Linked DNA regions of Homo sapiens: region 2 is linked to region 1. The links come from fine-mapping of genetic effects on gene expression. Tissue or cell type: follicular helper T cells. Region 1 holds a variant in brackets; the other region holds the start of a gene. All regions are shown on one strand. Distances are between the middles of the regions.

Evidence for each region. PIP is the estimated chance that this variant, and not a neighbour inherited with it, causes the effect.
Region 2: EIF2A starts here. The variant in region 1 is fine-mapped to the expression of EIF2A in follicular helper T cells (Schmiedel 2018, PIP 0.95).

The regions. Positions count from the first base shown.
Region 1 is chr3:150,648,422-150,651,106 of GRCh38, forward strand. No RefSeq gene overlaps it. Among named protein-coding and RNA genes, the nearest start is that of SELENOT, 46 kb to the left of the region's middle. The variant A/C (reference allele first, on the strand shown) is at 1,273.
Region 2 is chr3:150,545,754-150,548,438 of GRCh38, forward strand. EIF2A (eukaryotic translation initiation factor 2A) reads left to right here and starts at 1,034. Exons shown (of 14, transcript NM_032025.5): 1 at 1,034-1,077. The coding sequence starts at 1,050. It overlaps SERP1 (stress associated endoplasmic reticulum protein 1), which reads right to left and starts at 743. Exons shown (of 3, transcript NM_014445.4): 1 at 299-743; 2 at 1-25. The coding sequence starts at 382. RefSeq lists enhancers at 254-884, 330-1,529, 802-1,341.

The DNA of each region.
Region 1 (2,685 bases):
CCTTCAGGGGTAAAGGCTTCTTAGGGTATCAGTTCCCATGGGCTCAGTATCATGCCTTCGCTAAATGGGAATGGACAGAGATTGTGTGTGTAATGAAGCTGTAGGCTCTTTCTTCGTCTCCCATTTACGACGAATGGCAGACCCCTCACCATGGTGTCTCACTGAGGGAGTGTACCAGGTGCACAACCCTCCAAGTCTCCACCCAAGGGATCCATGTTGAGAAAATCAGTGACCCTAGTGATTGGCAAACATACATGTTAAGCAGTTTGTAATTCTTTGAGTTTAACCAAATTTAAGGAGAGTGAATCATACATTTCCACTGAAACTTTACTTTCATCAAAATTTGCTATGTTGTTTTGATCAGTTATGTGCTAACAATAATTGTAATGTTAATCAAAGGATTTTTTTGAACGCAGAGCCTTAAGGTCATAGAAAATAAACTTTTACATTTTTAAATTTTAATATATTATTTTTGTAGTCAAGAAATATGAGAAGATGATCAGTAATAGATTTTCAAGCATAAAAATATATCACAGCCCAAATAAACTTCTTTGGAGGAAGTAGGATGAAACTGTAAGTTCAAAAGAAAATTAAAGGAATGTTGCAGAATTTCTGGCTGTTAAAAAAGAGCTAGTTCATATATTTTTTAAATGGATAATGTCAAGTATTATATTACTGTGGTATTTAGATTCCATTGGATTCATTTTGGAAGGTAATGTTTCTTTCAAAATGTCAAGATTTATAATACATTGAAAATGACATTTTTTGCAACCGCCTAAATTTATGATGAATCATTATAGATGTCAACTGAAAAATGTGCAAGGGGGAACATGCATTAAAATGTTTTCTTAAGGGCATAAAATGGGAAAAGTTTGAAGATCACTGATCTGGACTGATTGGTTCCTTCTGAGGGGGCTAAGTGCCATTCACTAGAATGTAATTTATTTTAAACCATGTCTGTTTTACATATGCTATTGTAAAGAGAAAATTTAATGAAATAGAAATTCATCCATACTTTACAATGTCCTTTGTTTTAAGATTGGTAAACAACGCTACAAAAACTTAAATGTGTGCTTAAGGAAATTGTGTGGGTACATTTTATGTAGCACTTTCTGTTTATTCTCTGTGGGTAAAGGAGAAACAAATATGTTTGTATGGTACAAAGTTACTTCTATTATTGTTAGTACTTATTAACATCATTTATTTTAATACTAATAATTAAATAATTCCTTTCTGATGTGAGCTTTCAGTTCCTACTAATTCTCTCATCTA[A/C]CATAACTCTGTAATTATTTCTTTTTTTTATATTATAAACTAGAGATGAGGTCTCACTATGTTGCCCAGGCTGGTCTGGAACTCCTGAGCTCCAAGTGACCCTCCCACCTTGGCCTCCCAAAGTGCTAGGATTTTAGGCATGAGTCACCACACTCAGACTCTACAATTATTTCTAATTCTTTGAAGCCCCAGAAAAAAGATGAGTTAATTCCTTGGTTTGGTTAGAAGGACTCTGTCAGTGAGAGGCTGGGGTCTCTGTAATTATTACCGTAGTTTCCATCACTAAGCACAACTACAGCAGGCCAGGCACTGCACACATATTCTCTCTAGTGGTCAGACATACATGTTAAGGTCTGAATGTTTGTGTTCCTCCCCAAATTCCTATGTTGAAATCTCAACCCTCATGATGGTATTTGGAGGTGGGGTCTTTGGGAGGTGATTAGGTCATGAGGATGCGGCCTTCATGAATGGGATTAGTGCCTTTACAAACAGGAAACCCAGAGAGGTCTATAGCTCTCTTTCCACCATGTAAGGATACAGTGAGAAATTGGGAGTCTGCAACCCAGAAGAAGGTCCTCACCAGAACCTGATCATGCTGGCACCCTGATCTCAAACTTCCAGCCTCCAGACTTGTAAAAGATGTTTATTGACTAAACATTTATCCAGTTACCCAAACCACCCAGTTTATGGTAGTTTGTTATAGTAGCCCAAACTGAATGAGACACTACAACCATGAGAAGTTGATTTTATCTTTTTCAGTTTACAGCTGAGAGAACTGAGGTTAAGGAAGTTCAGTAACTTGCCCAAGGGCACACAATTAGTTGATGGAGAGCTGGGACTTGCCCTGGGATAGTCTGAGTGATATACTCTTTGGACCCCTCTGGGATTTGGTCCTTGGCAAAGTGAGCCCTGGTGAGGAACAGAGGGAAGAATATTTGATGGGGTCAGATGACCTGGGATCACTTTCTAACTCCACTTGCTGCTTAGCTGTGAGACCTAAGAAGTCACTTGCCATCTTTCAGTCTTAATATCTTTGCTGAAAATTTGCAGTATTGTGAGACTCAAAGTATAAGCAATATATGAGTATGAAGGAGGATTATTTTATCCTATCCTCTGGCTCAGATTTTGTTATAAAATTGACAAAAAAAAAATGTTATCACCTTTTGATCCCAGAGGAGTTCCCAAAACCTCATCTGAGTTTGTGGAATTGGGAATTGGGTTATGTTTTTCCATCTTTGTTGAATGCAAAATGATTGTATCCATCAGCAAATGGATTGTCAAAACTTAGAAGTGCATGGAAGTGTGTAGTATCCCTGCCTGATTTGGGCACTGGGAAAAGAAATCAGGTAGTGCAAACACAGGAAAATGTAACACATCTTTTTAGATAGAGACACATTACCTGTGTGCATTCTA
Region 2 (2,685 bases), 100 kb before region 1:
ACGCCTTCTCTTCGGGGGCATTTCTCTGCAAAAGCGAAAATCCACCATTTCAGATGCAGAGAAACCACTCGGACCCCAGGCTCCCACGCCTGCACGCCGGTCGCCGGCCCCCTCACCTCACAGGTCTCCCCTTCCGTTCCCGAGCCCCCACAGTCTGGCGGTTCGCAGACTCGGGCCCCTACCCCTCCACGGCACCAGCCCACGGTCGGCCGGATCCGGGAGAAAACGCGACGCGGCCCCAGGGACCCGGACTCAGCTCCGGCTGCGGAACGCAGAGGGGCGCCCGCTCTTTCCTTACCGAGGTCTTGGCGACGTTGCCGCGCTGGGTGATGTTCTTGCTGTGCTTCTCGTTGGCCATACGGATCCTTTGCTTGGCGACCATCTTCGCGGCGCCACCACCTGCCCCGGCCACCCCTCGGACTCGCTCACTCGCCTGCCTCCTCTGGAGCCGCTGCGAGGCTCGGCTCGTGGTGCCCGCGCCGCCGGAGCGCCGAGGTTCTCAGGCCAGACGCTAGCTACGGCCGCTGGGCCTGGGCGCCGCAAGCGCGAGGTCTGAGCACAAGCCGGGCGCCGGCCGCCGACTGACTGACCGAGCGGGGCAGGTGCGCAGGAGGAAGAGAACTGGCCGCCGGGTCGTTCTCGCGCCGCCGTCGCCGCCGCTTTGGCCGCCGCCGTGAGCGCGGAGTGAAAGAGGAAGGAAACGCAACGCAACAACGGGAATGTGCAGCCCGCCGCCTCGATCTACTTTGGGTTCGGCTGCCAACGTCAGCACTAGACGGACTCCGCCCCGCGGAAGTGCGCGCCCCTCCCGCTGGAGAAGGAGGGCGAAAGCAGGCGCACCCTCCCAAGCTCTGTCAAGCGTCGCCCTAGATTTGCGCGTGCGCGTTTGGGCGCCTTTTCCGCGTCACTCCGTAACCGGAAGTGAATTGGCCCCGAGGCTGATGGCTCCGGAAACACCAATTCGCTGTCTCCACGCATGAGGAGACGTGTAGGGGCCGGGTTCGGCCCTGGTGAACTCTCACCCGAGCGGTTTCTCTTTCCGGGACAACATGGCGCCGTCCACGCCGCTCTTGACAGGTGAGTTCTGAAGAAGCGAGGGACTCTCTTTCTTCAGACTAGTTTCTTATTTTTGTCTTTGCCTTTGAGAACTACCCGAGGAGCCGGGGAGTCTGATCTGCCTTTTCTTGTGGCTTGCGGAAAGGCCAGACTGTTGGCTTTCTTGATATAGCGTGGCAATCGGAAGTGAAGTCTCCGCCTCTGGGCTTTCGTATTCCCCCTCCCTTTCACCCATCCATCATTCTTGCCTGCGGATTCATCTTCTACAGAAATAGAAGAAGGGGGAGAAAAACAATGTGCTAGTTGAATTTGTGACACATGGGTCTGCAATACTGGTGTTACACGGGCCCTTGTGAAGTCATTTAGGTCTACAATAAGAACAAAGACAAACATGAGTTAGTCCTCTAGAATGATCACGCACTTTAAATACACCTGGACTTAAGTAATTCCAGATTCTGGCCTTCCTGCCTTAATGAGGTTTGTAGGACTGAATAGGGAGAGTGGAGCTGTAATGCAGGTTTCAAATGATGAAGGTGTGGTTGGGAGAGGGTGTAGCAGTGAGCATGATAGAGATATTCTAGCAACATTTGATTTTGAAATGGTTATGAGCATATTAGAAATAGAACATTAGAGGACTCTTGAAATTTTGAAGCTAAAGACTGTAGTGTTGGAGGAGATAATAAACTTAGATTGGAAAATGCTGGGGAAGTTGCTTTACTAGGGTGTGGCTAAGAGTCTGCATATGAGTATTACGTAAGGAAAAGAGAGTCGGGAAGGAAAAGAAGGTTTTGGTTAAGTTCTGATAACTATATAGAAGGAAAAAGTCATTAAGAGAAAGGTTGTCTGCATTTAAGGAGGGAGGCTATTCCCTCCCTTCCCCCCCGCGAAAGGAACCTTAAAACATTTTTGCACTTTTTGCCAGTCTACATTTCTATTTTTACATTTTAAAATCTTTGTTATTAAGCGCCATGCCCACTGATGCTCAGTCTGTCTTCTGCAGTTTAGTCATCATTTATCAAACGCCGAGTATAATCTTCTAGATAATATACCAGGCAAAGACTGTTTAAAAGGCAAAGTTACATAATAAATTTTTTTTTAGGTTTGTAAAGGTAGCTTGTTATTCACAATTTTTAATACTAAATGCTTATTTGAACTCTAATGAAAAAATTACATTCTAAAATCTGATAAATAACCCCTCCTTTAAAAATGCCTACAGTAGGTAGTTCCTCTCTGCTTACAGGGTAGATTCCATCCTATGTAGCATAGTTATGTAACCATTTATAATCTTTGAATTGCTCTTGAGACTCATTTATTTCCTTGCCATCCCATCTTATTTGGTGCTCCATCAATACTGAACTGCTTCTGAGTCCCTTTGAACAACCTGTTTCTTCAGTCTAGTACTATCCTATGCCTCTTGTTGATTTGGCAAACTCTTTTTCATCTGTTGAAATTAAAATTCATTTTAGATATCATTGCTCTGTGAAGCCTTTCGTCACTCTACCCAGATAGAGTCAGTCACTTCCTGGGCTATTTTTGTACCTGAAATATATTTGAAATTTTATTTCACTTACTAAGTAGGATAATTAGACATTCACTTGCCTTTCTCCCCTGCTAGACTGTGAGTCCTTC